Homo sapiens: one gene and its partner. The protein of the gene in region 2 interacts with the protein of the main gene of each other region in a pairwise test. Each region holds a gene or a part of one and is shown on either strand. Other genes may lie near its edges. The genes, in order: AGR2 and RBP5.

Region 1 (8,911 bases), on a different chromosome or scaffold from region 2:
ATCTGAACCCTGGCCCTAAGGCTAAAAGCCTATAAAGGAAATCATACTTAGAAGAATAAATTACCTTGACTGTGTGGGCACTCATCCAAGTGATGAATAATCATCAAGGGTTTGTTGCTTTAAAAGACAGAGATTAGACAAATTTTAATGAGTAAGATTTCACATATATCTAGATGTCACTAGGTGGTGCTCTTGAGAGCTTTGAGGGAGCTCTGAGTAATCCTGATCTTTACCTTGTCTTGGATTTATATAGAGCTTCTTCATATGTCTGAGTCCAGATGAGTTGGTCACCCCAACCTAGAATGAAATGAATCAGTATATTTGAAGCTTGTATAAATTCAGACCCAAAGCTGTTGAAAAGCAATGGTAAAGACTGGGATAATAGACCCTATACTAAAGAAGAAGAAAAACCCCTGGAGAAAGTAGAAATAATTATAAACAGTGATAAGTCTAGAAGGAACACAACCAAAAATAACCTGGCACCAGGTTAGAACCAGGTTTAAGCACCAAGAGAGAGGAAATCTTTTCCAATTAAGTAGCAGTTGGAAGCCAACAAGAAGCTGACTCCTACCTCTGGAGAGGGTCTGGGGCAGTTTGGGTCGAGAGTCCTTTGTGTCCTTTTTGGCTCCAGGTTTGACTGTGGTATCTCTGGCCAGAGTGTAGGAGAGGGCCACAAGGAGCAAGAATGCTGACACTGGAATTTTCTCCATGGCAACTCTAGTATGGAAAACCAACCAAAATCAGTAAACAAAATTGAACTAGCAGTCTTCAGGGTCTGCAGGTTGCCCCACAACGGTGGAATATACCAGAAACTGAGGCTCTGCTGAGACTGGACATACGAGATTGGCGTAAATAGCTCTGTTCCATGGGATTTTCCTAAGAATACAGGTGGTCTTTGACTTACAATTGAGTAATGTTCCAATAAACCCATTGTAAACTGAAAATATTGCAAGTCAAAATGCATCCAGAGTAGTCTCTCCTTTCCCAGGGTTTTACTTTCTGCGGTTTCAGCTAACCACGGTCAACCGCGTCCAAAATAAGTGAGCACAGTGCAATAAGATATTTTGAGAGAGAGACCAAATTCACCTAACTTTTATTATAAGATACTGTTGTAATTGTTCTGTTTTATTATTAGCTCTTATTAATCTCTTATTGTGCTTAATTTATAATTTCAACTTTATCATAGATATGTATGCATAGGAAAAAACATAGCATATGTAGTGTTTGGTACTAATGTGCGGTTTCAGGCATCCACTGAGGGTCATGGACCATAACCCCCACAGATAATGGGGGAACTACCGTAATACACCTAACCCACTGAACACCACAGCTGAACCTACCGTAAATGTGCTCAGAACACTCACATTAGCCTAAAGTTGGGAAAAGCCATCCAACACAAAGCCCATTTTATAGTAAAGTGTTAAATATCTCAAGTAATTTTTATGAATACTCTATTGGAAGTAAAAACCAGAATGGTTATATGGATACTTGAAATACAGTTTCTACTGAATGTGTATTGCTTTTGCACCATCATAAAGTCAAAAAATTAAGTCAAACTTCTGTAAGTTGGGACTGTTTGTATATAGTATGGATAGCTGTCTATTGATCCACATAGATAAAGACAAAAAGATATAGATCTCTATAGATATAGAGTTATCTATATAGATATATATATCTATATAGAAATAGATAAATAGAGATATATTTTGAGAAAATAGATATACATACTCTAGTAGCTAAGAAAATTTACATTTACTTTTTTTGGAGACAAGGGCTCACTGTGTTGCCCAGGCTGGAGTACAGTGGCACAATCGTGGCTCACTGCAACCTCCACCTCCTGGGTTCAAGTGATCCTCCCTCCTCAGCCTCCCAAGGAGCTGGGGCTACAGGCACGTGCCAGCATACTTGGCTATGCTTTTGTATTTTTTAGTAGAGATGGAGTTTTGTCATGCTGCCCAGGCTGGTCTCAAACTCCTGACCTCAAGTGATCCTCCTGCCTTGGCCTCCGAAAGTGCTGGGATTACAGGAGTGAGCCACCACGCCTAGCTGATATCTTAGTTAAATTACTTTTTCTTTCTGGTATGCCACAGTTGATTCCCAGGAAAAACTAAAGCCTATGAAAAGGAAAGTACATGGCAAGATAAGTTTTGTGAGTGAGGAGGGAGGGAGGGAGCAAAGTGAGTTGCTCTAGCAAGTCACTAAGGTTGTCCACGGGGCCGTAACATGGAAGGCTGGAGATTTGGGATTCTGATAAAACCAAACACTAAAAGTGCTAAAAAGGAAATATGAAACCCCGGCACCTAACTCTAGTATTGGTGAATGGTTTTGAATGAAGTCAAATAAACTCTGCAAGGAATTACTATTGTTAAGCAGGAAGTTTTTCATAATCTAATATCTTGAGTGGAAACCTTTGCTAAGCATTAGCTGATTTTTTTTTAAGTGTTGCTAAGCTACCAGATCGAAATGATGTTTTGTATTTAACTGACCAATGATTAACTAATCCATAGTATGTAAGCACAAAATGTCTTACTCAGAAAAGATGTAAGCAAAAATCAGGGATATACTTTGTTCATTTTCTATACCTACAAAGATGTGGAAATGCCAATAACTTTTGTCTTCTAGAGTTTTGCAAAAACAACCTAAGTGTTCACTGTAAGTCAACAATTCTCAGCCCTCTTTGTATAAAGACTTCTTTGTAATGTTAAAAAAATCAAGAACTTTTACATGAGAATAATTATACATTTGGAATACTGGCTGGTTCAGAAACATATGGCAAATAATTTCTTTGAATCTATCAACAAACATTTGATTTTATCTTTTATTTATAACAGCATCTATATATATTCTAAAAAATAGTAAATTGATGGTAAGGCATTTTTATTTACTTAGCCCATTTACAGTTCTTGTTTTCCAAGTAGCTATTAGGACCTTGCAGTATCTCCAAAGATCACAGGTTGGAACTATTGATATATTGCTTGTGTTTTACGGCAGGATGACTCAAGGAAGGCTAACATAACTCCTGCTGTACAAACATCCTGCTGTGGGGTGACTTTCTGAGATTCACTCCACTGAGTTTTCGTAATGTGAATAGATTCTGCTCTGCAAATTTCCTGCATAAACCACCTCAAAACACAATTCCATGGAAAATATTGATAATTTGGAGACACACACAGACATAGGTACACACACACACACACACACACACACACACATTATGTGAAGCCAGCACTTTTTACTCATCACCGTATCCCTGTCTTCTTGTCTTTAGCAAATAATGAACTTGCAAGACATTTTAGTGTCCCTATTTGTAGATGCTTCAGGAAAGCAACCAGCTCTCTCCTCTAATAGCCTATCCCATGAATTTAAAGATTGCAGAGGCAACAAGAATGTCTTTGCAGCAAAAAGAGAAAGAAAACTGTTTTCTGATTTGCAATAATATATTCCAAGCGGGCAATCCGAGCTGAGGTGTCATAGTGGAGAAGCCTATGGGGCTTTGCTTTAGCCCGTGGGAAAGAAAGCTTTAGATGGTGACTGAGACGAAAATCCCTGGACCCTGTCCCAGGCTTGAAAAATCCTAGGATTCACCTACTCTTGGAAATTTTGTTTCGCAAAAGAGAAAGCATTTCTCTGAACTAACTCGGGAACGTCACACTGTGCCAGCTCTAGCCAAAGAAAGGCCCCAGTAAGACTTTTGTGGAAATTCCATGATTTCCCTTCCGTATCCTACTTCATTGCCTTTGGAAACTTGCAGTTCTCTGTTGCTTGATTGCCTACAACTTTATATAGCAATCAGAGGCCCGAATTCACTCCAGCAAGTACCCTTCTAAAGCTGCTGTCAGGAGCCTTACCTGGATTTCCTCACCCACCTGCCTTGTGTGAGTCGGCGGCTAGGATGCGGTCCAAGCTTCTGAGTGTGCCAGCACAGCTGAGTCTCTATTTATGCACCAGGGCATACCTCAATCCCACCCACTAGTGCTGCATTTACTTGTTGCTAACTCAGAAACGAACCTTCCTTTCCCCAAGTGATTATCTTCCCTGGGTTAAAGAGTTCCTTGTTTTTAAAAATAACATTGCAAAAGTATGCTTTTCAGTATGCATGTTTTTAACTATTTGTGAAACGTATTGTTAAGAGGTTTTGAAACGATGGGCAGAGTGCCAAATCCAGGTAGACTTTGAATGAAGACATTTGATTTGCCTGAAGGCTGATTTGTCTTTACATGATTGGACAGAGTTTGTAGTTTGTAGATTTTTTTTCTGCTCCGTGGGCAGATTGCCTTTATTTACTTGAAGACACACAAGAGATGATTCACAATTCTGATCCTCGCAGTCATATAACCTGCCATACTCCATTATGATAAAAATTATTTTCTACAATACTTCCCTGCTCCTGTCAAAACAATGCACCCTAACTTCTACAGGTATGAAAAAAAATACAAATCAAGTAACCCACGTAATTTTTCAAAACTGAGGAAGTATTGGCAAAAAAAAAAAAAAAAAACAGCCTAATATCGTGAGCTTGTAATAAATGCCTTGCCATTGAATGTATGCAGCAACTTCCCTCCACAGAGTTCAAAGGTATTTCACAGATAATCTCTTATTTAAAGGCAAACTTTCCTGCCACGCAAGCAGGAAGCCATTTACTCCATTTTCTCAGACCTAAAAACTAAGGTCTGCAACCAAGTTTTTTTTCCCCTCAAGACCATTTAATTACTCCCTGAAGATTTTAAAACTGGAATTTAAATTTTCTGTCAGAAAATTTTAATCCTGTATTTTGTTCATGAAGTTGTGTGCAGTCTTTAAAAGCTCAGAATGAAGAAAATGTTAACAACAGAAAGTTAATGAATGGGATGCAAGCCCTATATAAATGACTTTTTAAAATGAGTTAAGGTCATAATATTTCAAAAACATTTGCAAGTATGTATATTTTTCCAATAAATCCTTGAATTCTGTGGGCAAAATCGTGATTCTCCAAATACTGAATTTCCTTTCAATTCTAATGAATTTATAGAAGTAATTTCTTCAGGAGTTTGAAAACGATGATTTGAGCAAAATTCTTAAAACTAGCAGGCCCTTAGATAGACCCTTGTAATATTCAATTCCAGTCTTTCATTTTACAGATGAATAAATGAAGATGGCAAAAAATTCATAACTTTTTGAAGGTCTCACAACTAGTTTAGGGCAGAGTTGGGACCAAAGTCCTTCAGTCCCTTATCCACTGAAAGTAACAAGTGGATGGGATTTGGAGTCACGAGATTCCCATCTGAATCCTGCATCCTGGTGCTTGCTCATAGGATGATCTGAGATCTCATTTAACATCCCCAAAACTTCAGTTTCTCCATCTATAATATGGGGATAATATTAACATACGGGACCATTTTGAATATTAAATGACTTTTCCCTGTATTGCCACATGGTTTTTCCCTCTGTACCTGTCTGTGTCATTTTTTTCCTTTTCTTATAAGGACACCAGTCATATTGTATTTGGGTCCTGCCTAATGACCTACTTTAACTTAATTACCTCTGTAAAGATCCTATTCTGAAGTCCTGGGGATTAAGACTTCAACATATGAATTTTTGGGGGGGACACAATTCAGCCCATAACATTTGATAAAAGTAGCTAATGCAGGCTGGCTTAAGACCTAGTTGTTGGGTTGATCAGTGCAGCAAACCACCATGGCACACGTTTACTGATGGAACAAACCTGCACATCCTACACACATACTCCGGAACTTAAAAAAAAAAGTCTTTGATTTGTTACAGTTAATTATAGTGATATAATTATTCTATACTCATGTGCCTAATCTCATGTCGGGAAAAACCCAGAGTTTGTCATAGTGGCTGACGGATGGCAAGGAGGAGGTAATTATTAGCAGATATCCTACACATGCTATTGAGGCTGTGGAATCTTTGGCATATCTGTCTTGGTGTGAGGTAACTAGGGTTCTGTAGATGGTACATATAGTATGCTTTGAGACAAGCAAAGGAGGGGTTTTTGTTTTATGCTATTAAACTTCATCACTTTTAACAGTGATGCCATGTGATCAGTCCTTCAGGTTTGCCTGATACTGTAAAAATATGTCGCTATCAGGTAGATATTTTGGATAATACCTGAGTAGGACTTCCTGAAGTAGGATTTGATAATTTGATATACCGGTCTAATATTATAGTAAGTAAAACTAAGCTTGGTACCAGGGATCCTATAACAATGGTTGTAATTAAGTGGATATTATACCTTTGTGTTTTAAATGTTTATTACATTATAATTTTAGAGGCATTTATTCAAGCATATTTTATTTTATATTTTTAAATTCAACTTTTAAATTTAGGGGGTACATGTGCAGGTTTGTTACATGGGTATATTGCGTGATGCTAAGGTTTGGGGTACGATTGATCCCATCACCCAGGTAGTGAGCATAGCGCCCAATAGGTAGTTTTTCAGCCCTTTCTCCCTTCTTTTCCTCTACCCTTTTGGGGTCCACAGTGTCTATGGGTCCCATCTTTGTGCCCATGTGTACCTAATGTTTAGCTACTACTAAGTGAGAACATGTGGTGTTTGGTTTTCCATTTCTGCATTAATTTGATTAGGATAATGACCTCCAGCTGCATCCATATTCAAGCATATTTTAAAGTGGATTATATCCTATTTTTGAGTTAAAACAGGAGACTTATAACTGGCAATTATTGTGTAATCTAGCATGCATGAGTAGCTAACTCTTGTGTTTCATTTACTCATTCATTTATTTTCTTCACCAAGTATTCATCAACTCTGTTTATGTAGCAAATATTGTGCCAGGCATTAAATATATAAAAATGAAAAAATGATGGTCAGTTATTGAGGTAGCCAGACACACACATAGATAATTGCAATTCGGAGTGATGGGCCATGCTATGGGGAAAACATGTAGCAGTTTACAACACTGTTTCTACTCTAAGGTTACTTACGATCTGATTGAAGAATTAAGATGGAACAACACTAAAAATTAGCCATTCACATGAGAATGGCACGCAACAAGAAACAAGTAAGTGGGATAGACGTCAGGTGTGATTATTTTTCAGAGAGAGTAGAGATTGCTACCTACTAGAGTGCTCAACTTGACGGCAGAAAGCAAGATTTCCAAATAGAGACGGTGATATAGAATTTGCAAAATATATTTGTGGGATATTTAAGGACGAGCCTAGCTGAAGTGAGAGACATCTGGGTAGCTCATAGACAATAGGGTTGGAGGGGTGTTTTGGGGCTATTTGCCTGGGCCTTTAATGCCATTCTAAGTTTAGACTTTACCCTCAAGAGGAAGCATGTGAGGGTTAAGAGGGCAAGCTGTAGATTCAGATAGGTTCGAGTTTGAATCAAGTTTCCTGACTGTTACATACTCTACTAATCCAGGCAACTTACTTAACTTCTCTGTGCTTTAGTTGTCTCACTTGTAGGTCTTCCTATCCCTACTTTTTTACTATATAGGATCTGTGGAAGATTACATAAGATAATAGACATAAAGTGCTTAGAATGGTACATAACACATAGTAAGCACTCAAAAATATTAGTTAGTAATACAGAATGTATTACTTCTCTGTATTATGATCATTTAGGTCTCAGTCTATGACAGCAGAATCTTTGTTGGATTACCCTTTGATTATAGCCTATCACAAGTCTTAAACTTTTCACATATATTCATTGGAAATATTCATTTGTCATTATAACAATCTCACCAGACTTCATTATTTTCTTTTAAAAAAGTAAAAAGGCTCAGGTGAGTGGACATAATTAGCGCAAAGCCACAAAATTGATGAACAGAGAGAAGATCTAAAATTTTCCATAGTTGGTGATAATTAATCCAGTATTTCTTTCAGTCCATCAGGCTGCCTTCTGATGTCAGGAAATAATGAGATAAGCCTGTAGATGCATAGAATTCCACATTACTGAATTATTATGAGCCTTATGCAGAGGGAAGTGCAAATGACTTCTTGTACTCAAAGGGTTTGCCTCAGAGAAGACTTGTCAAAAACATATCTAACTGCTGACCAAATAGCTGAATAAATTCTCCCTAACTCTAGCTTAGAGAAATGGACACATAAAAATTTGTGTTTTGACAGAGGAAAACTTGGTTACCATTTGAATTTATTTTAATTTCTGAATTGGGCTTTTGTGCACAGAATGGTTTAGAGTTTCTGGAGTTTTAATTGATATCCAGTAATGAAATTGTTAAAAATAGTTTAAACTGTACTTATATATCTAATTCTCTTAAACTTTCTAAATGCCCAACAGAGCAGATTTGCAAACATAATTAGCAAAACCTTTCTTTGAGTAAGCTTATCAGCTTTACTCTTCTTTGTATTCTTTCCTGAGACTAGTGATGGAGGAGCAGATTTACTGCTTGGGTGGATGAAGGTTCCTGGGTCTAAAGTTTGGGACCATGATATGTGTCAAAGGCTGAGAACCAGTCATTGATATGTTAAACTTAATGTCATACAATTAGATGTGTTTCTTGCGGGAAAGTATAGAGCAAAAGGACCAGCATACAACTTTGGTAATGATTGTCCATTTAGGAGTGAGGAAAAGAAATACTTGCAGAGCACAGAAAGTATAAAGTGTGAGGACAGGCAGGATAGTGTCATAGCCCTGGATCCAAGTCCAGTAGGAGCTACAAATCTCAAGGCAACAACTGGTGCCAAATGCGGCGAGACTTGTAACTAGACACTAGGAGAATACACTGATTGTATAAAAATCAGTGGCTTTAAACGAAAATTCATGAAGGGTTCTTGGGTTGAAATAATGAAAAGCTAAGTGTTCTGGTGCAGTAGTGTATTACCTTTTGGGGTCATGAATGAGGTGATTATACTTCTCAGTTTGCCCAGGAGAGCCTCAGTTTAAGCCTGTTGCTGGGTATAATAATTGAGAATGTCTTCTTTCATT
Region 2 (8,783 bases):
AGGCTGGAGTGCAGTGGCAGGATCTCGGCTCACTGCAACCTCTGCCTCCTGGGTTCAAGTGAATCTCATGCCTCAGCTACCAGAGTAGCTGGGATTACAGGCGTGCACCAACATACCGGGTTAATTTTTGTATTTTTAGTAGAGACAGGGTTTCTCCATGTTGGCCAGGCTGGACTTAAACTCCTGAGCTCAAGTGATCCGCCCGCCACCGCTTCCTAAAGTGCTGTGACTATAGGCATGAACCATCACACCCAGCTTTCCACTCCTAAAGGTCACCGAGGGGGGCCCAAAGTTGTCTACAGTGACCTTTAGGGGAGAGCAGGGGTGGTAGCAGGATAAGTAGAGGTGAAATTGGGGAGGGCATTTATGAAGAATGGAGACTTTTTCCTCTGGATACTTCTGGCTGACCTAGAGGGACTTTTGAGAAAAAAGAGAGATTGGTTGGGAATCCTACCAGGTAATCTCATTTCTCCTCTTTCTCGGTTTCAAGAACAGCTGAAGTATCCTTAGAAATAAAGGGTCAGCCCCTCTGGGCCTGAGCATTCCAATCAACCTTTATTGAGTTCTCCTTTAGGATAGGCCCCAAACAAGGAGCTCAGAGTCTTGAAGAGATAGAGGATCAGTAAATAGGTAACTGTGACACCAGGCAAGAGTGAGGGATGGCAGTGGGGCGGGCAGAGTGAAATCTTTAAGGAAGTTGGGAGTTAATTAGATTGGAGAGAATGGGAAATTTCTAGCAAGGAAAGAAACAGCTAGAAATAGCGGTAAAAGAGAAAGGCAATTAGTTCTGAAGGGCTCTAACCTAGAGTATATGTGGTGGAGGCAATTGAAGAGTTGATTCACAGAGACCCTTGTATGCTGAGTTAAGTGTAACAGATGATGTAATGTAATAGATCATCACTGAAAGGGTGTAAGTCAGAGAGTGACATGATCACATTTATGTTTTAAGTAGACCCTGTGGCTACAGCATGCAGATTAGAGGAGGGTTAAGCGTGAGAACCAGCTGGGTGCAGTGGCTTAGGCCCGTAATCTCAGCATTTGGGAGGCTGAGGCGGGAGAATCACTTGAAGTCAAGAGTTTGAGACCAGCCTGGGCAACACAGTGAGACCCCACCTCTACCAAAAAAAAAAAAACACAAAAACACAAAAAAGCAATTTCAGGCACCAGGAAATGAAGGCCTGAATTAGGGTGGTGATAGAGAAAGGTTAGGAGGGAACACAGGAGAGCCATTTAGAAGAGTGATGCTCAACAGAAATAAAATGGGTCAGGAGCCATATTAGAAAAGTAAAGAGAAATAGGGGAAATTAATTTAAATAATATATTTTAGTTAACCAAAAATATTCAAAATATTATTATTTCGGCATGCAGCCAATATAAACATTTCCGAAATGCTTCTTTTTATTTGGCATTGTCTGAAAGTCCACTTACAGCATCTAGATTTGGACTAGTTATATTTCAAGTATTCAACGGCCATCTGAAGTTAGCAGCTGCTATACTGGGTAATGCAGAAAAGCTACAAAGATTTCTTGGCCGATTAGATGTGGTGGTGGTGGTGGTGGTGGTGTGTGTGTGTGTGTGTGTGTGTGTGTGTGTGTGTGTGTGTGTGTGTGCTGGGAGCCTAGAGGTAAGGAAACAAGAGATATTGACCATGACTCCCAGGTCTCTGGCCTGGCTGGTTATTGCCATTAGTGGAGAGAGTAGATATAAAAGTGGGGTAGGTTTGGATAGGAAGACAGTGAATTTGAATTTGACCTTGGCATTCAAATGGAAATTGGTTCCAGGACCCCCACCTCACTAAATCTGCTGAATAAAATGGCTTAGTATCTGTAGAGAAACTACATACATCCCCCTGTGTACTTTATTATTATCATTTTGATACAGAGTCTTGCTCTGTCACCCAGACTAGAATGCAATGGCATGATCTTGGCTCACTGCAACCTCTGGCTCCCGGGTTCAAGTAATTCTCCTGCCTCAGCCTCCCAAGTAGCTGGGATTACAGGCATGCGCCACCATGCCCGGCTAATTTTTGTACTTTTGTATTTTTTTTTTTTTTTTTTTTTGAGATAGAATTTCGCTCTTGTTGCCCAGGCTGGAGTGCAGTGGTGCGATCTTGGCTCACTGCAACCTCTGCCTCCCAGGTTCAAGTGATTCTTCTGCCTCAGCCTCCTGAGTAGCTGGGATTACAGGCATGCGCCACCATGCCTGCCTAATTTTTTGTATTTTTAGTAGAGATGGGGTTTCTCCATGTTGGTCAGGCTGGTCTCGAACTCTTGACCTCAGGTGATCCGCCCGCCTTGGCCTCCCAAAGTACTGGGATTACAGGTGTGAGCCACTGCACCTGGCCTAATTTATGTATTTTTAGTAGAGATGAGGTTTCACCATGTTGGCCAGGCTGGTCTTGAACTCCTGGCCTCAAGTGATCTGCCTGCCTCAGCCTCCCAAAGTCTTGGGATTATGGGTGTGAGCCACCACGCCCAGCCTTTTCCCATATGCTTTAAATCATCTCTAGATTACTTATAATACCTAATGCAATGTACATGCTCTGTAAATAGTTGCTATACTGTATTGTTTTTTATTTGTATCATTTTGTATTGTTATTTTTTATTTTTATTTTTCCCAAATATTTTTCCATTTGCAGTTTGCTGAAGCTGTGGATGCAGAACCCATGAATATGGAGGGCCAACTGTATTTTGTAGGCAGTTGAAAACATTGCCCTGGAGCTCAGGAGATGGCTCTGGCTGGAGAATTCATGCCAAGGGCAGCCTATAGATGGAAGCAGAAGGCATGGGTGTAGATGATTTAGCCTATGGATAGTGGGCAGACAAAAGGGAGAAGACATTAAGAACAAAACTCTGCGGAGAAAACTCCAGTTTAAAGGATTAATAGGAGGACTAGGATCTGCAAAGGAGGCTAAGAAGGAATATGTAAGAAGTAGAAAGAAATGCAGGAGAGTGAAGTTATTGATGCTAAAGTAAAAGGGACTCTGGGTGACCAACAGTGTCACAGGCTGGAGGGTGGGCAAATGTTTGCTCTTCGGTCTGGGTTGGCCTGTTCTTTGCCCTTTGGGCTGGTGATAAGAGGGGGCAGGGAAGAAGTGGGAGAGAGACAGGGAGCACCAGGACCTGTTAGTTCTGGAGACTGGTATCCTGGGGACTGCATTCCCTGCTGTGGTGACCATTCCCCTCCTCCCCGCTGCTCTGGCTGGGGAAGGTCACTTTGTTTTGCCCCATGTTGTTAGGAGTCTCCTGTGATGCCTCCTTCCGGCCACCGCCCAGCCAGGGGAAATGTACCTGGCATTTTCGTCCGTCCACGCTCCTGAGGTCCTCCTCAAACTCCACTCCCACATCAAACTGCACAGTGTAGTTTCGGAAGGTGCTGAGCGTCCTCACCGTCATGTGGTTGCCCTGGTGTTCGATCTCCTTGTCCGGCTTCAGCAGCAGCGCGATCTTCCGCACAGCCAAGCTGATGTCTGTGGGGGCTGCCTGTTAGTAGGGGTGCTGCTAGCCAGCCAGGAGCTCCTCTGCCTGCAGCAGCCCCTCAGGGCTGTGAGTTTCCCTTCTTTGGGTCTGGGACTGTGGATTCACCCCCTCCTACCAATGCCTGGTTAGAAATGGATCCCAGGTCTGGTGCCAGCCGCCTGAGCCTTTCCACAGTGTCCAACCCCGGGCATTCCCTCTTCTCCATGGGACCAAGAAGCAGGAAGGAAGAGGGGAGAAAGGGAGTGACAGGGGTCTGGGAGGGCGAGGCCATTACTTAGGGCTTGCAGGTAGTCCTCCATGTTCTTCTGCGAGACAAAGCGGTAGTAGCCAGTGAGGTTGGGAGGCATTGTGTGGATGAAGGTTTCAGGAGAATGCAGGAGACAGGGTGAGGAAGGAGGGGGTGTTGTCTGGCAGGTGAGGCTGAGAGATTCCAGCCAGCTCCACACACAGAGACAGGATGTGTAATGGCCGGGTTACCAGGGCTTTTTATAAGGCTGGGGCCCTGTTGCAATAAGAGTCCCTACCAGACTTCTTCCCTCCCCGCATGGTGAGTTTGGGGGTGGTGTCTCCAGCCTGAAGGAGGGGCAGGGATTTGGCAAAGTTGCGCCTGACCTTGGCTTTTCCTGAGGAAGGAACCTGGAGCAGGATCCTTCCTGAGGAAGGAACCTGGAGCAGGATCTGGGGCTGTCAGTCATCCAAAACTCAGCCATCCAAAGGTCAGTGTTGGCCTCCACCTCATTTCTGGCAGGCTTGGGAACCGTCCCAGGGCCTGAGGGGCAGTCTTTCCTGGGAGACACCTGAGGCTGGTCTGGCTGTGTGAGGTGGAGATGAGTTCCAACAATATCCTGAGATCCTGGGACTGAGTGATGTTGGAAGATGTGAGGGGAGGGGGTGAGGATGGCCAGCTGCCACCATGAAGAGCACCCTGTAGGCCTGGCTCTCAGAGCTCCCTCAGGTAGTGTGCTCAACTGGGACCCCAAAGTGGCATTCCAGACTCTTGGTCCTAAAGAGCCATTAGGAGGGAGGTGGAGCCCGAGGGGTGCTGAGTTCAAAGTCCGGAACAGACAGCCTGAGAGGAGTTTGTTGGCTATTCTGGAGAATTTTATTCTTTTTGGCTTGGGACCCAGGGGGTTTTCTCTCCCTCTGAGTCATCGATGAGACCGTAACCCCCAGTCCCCAGCCCTAGGACAGCCCATGCTTTCCAGATGTATTTCTGTGAAGGTGGGGTGGAGGCGCCTAAATAATATTGTGCCCCGCCCCCAGCTGCCCAATTCTCTCTCGAACCTGCCATCGTCCCGGGCTTCAGAATCCACTGGGCTTGGTTCATCATGGTTTAAGGTGAAATTCGGGGCGAAGGAGGCAGGACAGGTAGGCAGGAGGAGGCGGCCGGTCCCGACAGGTGCGTGCGCGAGGGGTGCACGACGTCCTGCCCCTCCTTGGGTCCCAGAGCCTCGATACCGCCCTGCGGACCGCCCTGTGGCTTCCTCGCAGCCCTGGGCTACAAATGCCAGGATTTCTCAGGCTCAGACTGAGGGTTTTACTTCACCCTTCCCAGAGGGCACGCAGCACGGATCTGTGGATGGAAGGGGCTGTGGAAACAGGTTATGGCAGAGTTGGGGGGCGGGGTGACGCGGTGCCACCCCTCCTGGCCGCCCTCAGGTCCCGCTGACGTCTCTCTTCCCCACCCCCTGGCTTCTGGCTTCTTTCTCCCCACGTCCCTCTTCTTTCCCACCCCCTCCGTGGCTCTCCAGCTTCCTCCCCAGCCCCCGCAGTTCCTCGGCTCCCCCAAAATTGCAGCCAGGGGAAGGAGCCTTGAAACTCTCCAGCCCCGACGCCCCAGTCTCATTGGCTCCCTCCCCCGCTGCAGCACCTGGTCCCCCCCCCTCCCAGTCACCTGATTGGCCGGCGGCCCCATCAATCGTTGCCCGGCTGTGCTGACGTCATCCTGCAGTAGCGGGGTTGGGGTGGGAGTGAGAGAGTGAGGACGCTGGGCTGGGGGAAACGGGAAGCCGCTGCAAGTCCACCGCCTCAGCTACCCAGATTGGGATCTGCCCAGGCCCGCTTTATGGACTAGTGTGGGCGGCAGGCTCCTTTCCGTCCCTGCCCTGCTGTACCCCGCTCCTTGGAGACCCCCTGTATCCCTCCCGCAAGGTGGAATCCGCAGGCTGGAGGCTCCCAGGGGAGGCAAACGCCTGGCCCTGCCCTGCCCCACGCCGCACCATGACCCTCCTGCTGCTGCCCCTTCTGCTGGCCTCTCTGCTCGCGTCCTGCTCCTGTAACAAAGGTGAGTGAGGTGGGGGTGGGGGTACCGAAAGAGGGGCGTCGGGCAGCGCCGTGCGGGGTGGGGGTGGGAAGGAGGTGTCGAGGCTCCCTGGCACCTGACAGGTGTCTGGCCCTCTTCTGATCACCCTCCTTCCCATCCGTTCTCAGACCTGCTCCGTCTCCTCTCTTTCTCTTCCCCCAGCTACATCTTCCTTTCTGGTCCATCTCTACCCATGCGTTTCTCTTGCTGGTCATCTTGCTCCCATTTGGTCTCCATTCCCGTCCTGGGGTCTCTATTCTCCCCTTCCCCTAATTTCTACACGCTGGTGGCTACCTCGGGTCTGGGAAGGACTGCCCCCGAGCCGGTGATAGGCCTCTCCCCGCGGCTCTCCCTTTCACTGGCGCATGCTAAGGGTGTGTGGCAGATCCATCTGCTTCGCCTCCATCCCATCCTGGGGAGAAAGTATTTGCTGCAGTTCAGCAATTCGGAGCACGTATGTTTTTTGCGTGTGCCTCTGCATTCAGACCCTTTTGCCTGCATCAGCTGGGCTGTGGGTTACCAGAGCTGCCCTCTCTGGCAGACAGCGGATACATTCAGCTGGGCGGGGCTGTCGGACAGACGGAGAGGGAGGACGGGAGGGAGGGCTTGCGGGCAGAGGGCTCAGGTAGGTGGAAACGGATGGAGACTGGCAGGAAAGGGCAGAAGTGGGTGTGTGGGGGGCGCTAAATGAGTATGAGAGGGAAAGCTGAGAAGGAGAAGACCGGAGATGAGGCGTGGGAGGGGGTAAGGAGGGGATGGAAAAGGGTAAAGGTGGAGGCAGAAAAAAGAGGGAGGAATGAGGAAAATCAGGAAAAGAGTGAGTCAAGGAGGAGCCCGGGAGCCTAGGAGTGAAAGGGAGCAAACGCAGAGACCGCAGGGGGCCAGGAGGAGAGGAGACAGAGGCTCAGAGACCTGGGAAGACAAGCAGGGTGGGAGGGGGAGCTGTGCAGAGGGCGCCCAGCCCTGCCCTTCCACCGCTCTCTCTTCCTTGCCTGCATCTCTGACCTCAGCCTCGCCTCCTAGCCTCCTGCCACTTCCTGTACCGCCTCCTGTGCACCATCTTGTGGCTTTCTCCTCAGCATTCAGGAAGGGGTTATGGTGGTCATCAGTAAGAAAGCCTTCCCATGCCAAAGGCTTGCTGGTGTGTGGTTGGAGGAAAGAATGGAAATCAGGGTTTCTTGCTCACCGTGAGATACTGGGGATGAGGTTCCTTTTGGTGACTCAGTTTCCCTCTGCCTCATGATTGTGCTTTGGGAGCCTGGGTGTTGGCATGATGATGGGATTAGAGCAAGCGTGGAGGCTGGGGTGGGGGGTGATGTGGAAGGGGAGGAAATATGCTTCCCCACAGCCCCTCACCAGGCTGAATCTGGTAGAAGATGGGGAGATTTGGAGTCTGATGAGTCCCGCATCCATTCTGAATTGGCTGGTGGTTGAAGGGAAGAGGGATGGGGTAGATAAGAACTGGGATTGAGTTCTGTATAAAAAGTGGGTTTCAGGGAATGTGGTTTGATGGTCTTGTGGAGGACATAGAAATGTGTCGGTTTCGAATGTGTTCTCTTGGGTGTGGGGGTGGGAAGCAGGGACGGGATTTGTCATGTTTCTAGGCCAGCCCGATAATCCCTTAGGATGACGGCTCTGCTGGGTCCAGTTGCTCAGCATTGATTCCTCTGCTCCATTCCTGCCCCTCTCTGCCCCCTCCCTCTGTCCTATATATCTTCACTTCTCTCCTTTCTCCCCATCCTGTGTTCTGGGAGAGTGGCCTCAAGTTGGGGCTTGGCTGGGAGAAGTGCAGAGTGAAGGGATCAGGACTGAAATGAGTTGGGAGGAGGATAAGCAATCAGGATCTCAGGAAACTTCTAGATCTTTTTCTAGTTTCAATTCTGCCCTTAATCTATCCCTTCCCTTTCCCAGGGCCTTCTCACAGCCCACCACTGCTCCCTGAAGTTCCCTGTCTCCATTCTCTAGCACGTGAAATCGCTAAAGAACATTCTCCACTTCCTGACCATGGTTCCCATGGAGATAGTGATCCCCTCCTCTTCACCCCCAGGGCAGGTTGTTTCCATGGGAACTGTCTACCCTGCTATAGGAGAAGGCTATGACCTCCCGCAGACCCTCTGACTCCTTTAGTAGCTGATTTCTTGTCCTCAACCACCCGCCTCCTGTAAGGTGCTCCTATAGGGGGTGGAAAAGGTGATGGTGCTGGGGTGTGAGTTGTCTGGGTCAACAAGGGTTGTTGTGGGAGTAGAGGCCCTGCTCACAGGTGCTTCCTCTCCTCTCCCTGGGGTGGGGCCAGCCAACAAGCACAAGCCATGGATTGAGGCAGAGTACCAGGGCATCGTCATGGAGAATGACAACACGGTCCTACTGAATCCACCACTCTTTGCCTTGGACAAGGATGCCCCGCTGCGCTATGCAGGTAATTGGGATTGGGGGATGGCAAGGCAGGGTAGGACAGAGAAAAGTGGGTGGGAGGGCCAAGAGCAAGGGAGGGAGGGAAGGTCCTGGGAGTGATGAGAAAGTAAGGGAAGATAAAAGTGGGCTCAAGGAGGGGAATGGTCTCCACTGAAGAATGGAGATTGAGTCAAGGATGCCAGAAAAGGACATGGCCAGGCAAGGGTTAAACACATCATGATTTTGTCAGATCTCAGGTCTGGAGGCTCTGGGAGGTTGCTGCTCAGGGAAGCTGGGCTTAGAGTTGCGTGTTTGATCATTAATGCTTTTGTGCCTACAGGAGAAGGGACAGGGCTTTGGGAGGAGAGGTGGAGCTGGACCCCAGGTGGGGAGACTGAGGGTGGGGAAGGAGACACAGCAGCCTCACTCCTCCCCTTCTCCCCTTTGCCAGGTGAGATCTGCGGCTTCCGGCTCCATGGGTCTGGGGTGCCCTTTGAGGCTGTGATCCTTGACAAGGCGACAGGAGAGGGGCTGATCCGGGCCAAGGAGCCTGTGGACTGCGAGGCCCAGAAGGAACACACCTTCACCATCCAGGCCTATGACTGTGGCGA

Evidence for each region.
Region 1: the proteins of RBP5 (region 2) and AGR2 interact in binary tests that used the Homo sapiens proteins (3 or more experiments, as listed by UniProt).

The regions. Positions count from the first base shown.
Region 1 is NC_000007.14:16,801,087-16,809,997, forward strand, and holds the start of AGR2 (anterior gradient protein 2 homolog precursor), read right to left. Parts: upstream 3,914-8,911; 5' UTR 3,849-3,913; intron 718-3,848; 5' UTR 711-717; coding exon 572-710; intron 298-571; coding exon 234-297; intron 118-233; coding exon 65-117; intron 1-64. UniProt on the Homo sapiens protein: Required for MUC2 post-transcriptional synthesis and secretion. May play a role in the production of mucus by intestinal cells. Proto-oncogene that may play a role in cell migration, cell differentiation and cell growth. Promotes cell adhesion.
Region 2 is NC_000012.12:7,124,950-7,133,732, forward strand, and holds the start of RBP5 (retinol-binding protein 5), read right to left. Parts: upstream 3,941-8,783; 5' UTR 3,827-3,940; coding exon 3,754-3,826; intron 3,470-3,753; coding exon 3,291-3,469; intron 2,805-3,290; coding exon of another isoform or gene 2,748-2,804; exon of another isoform or gene 2,550-2,747; intron 1-2,549. Other genes in the region: CLSTN3 (calsyntenin-3), read left to right, coding at 4,674-4,847, 5,631-5,763, 8,075-8,197, 8,624-8,783.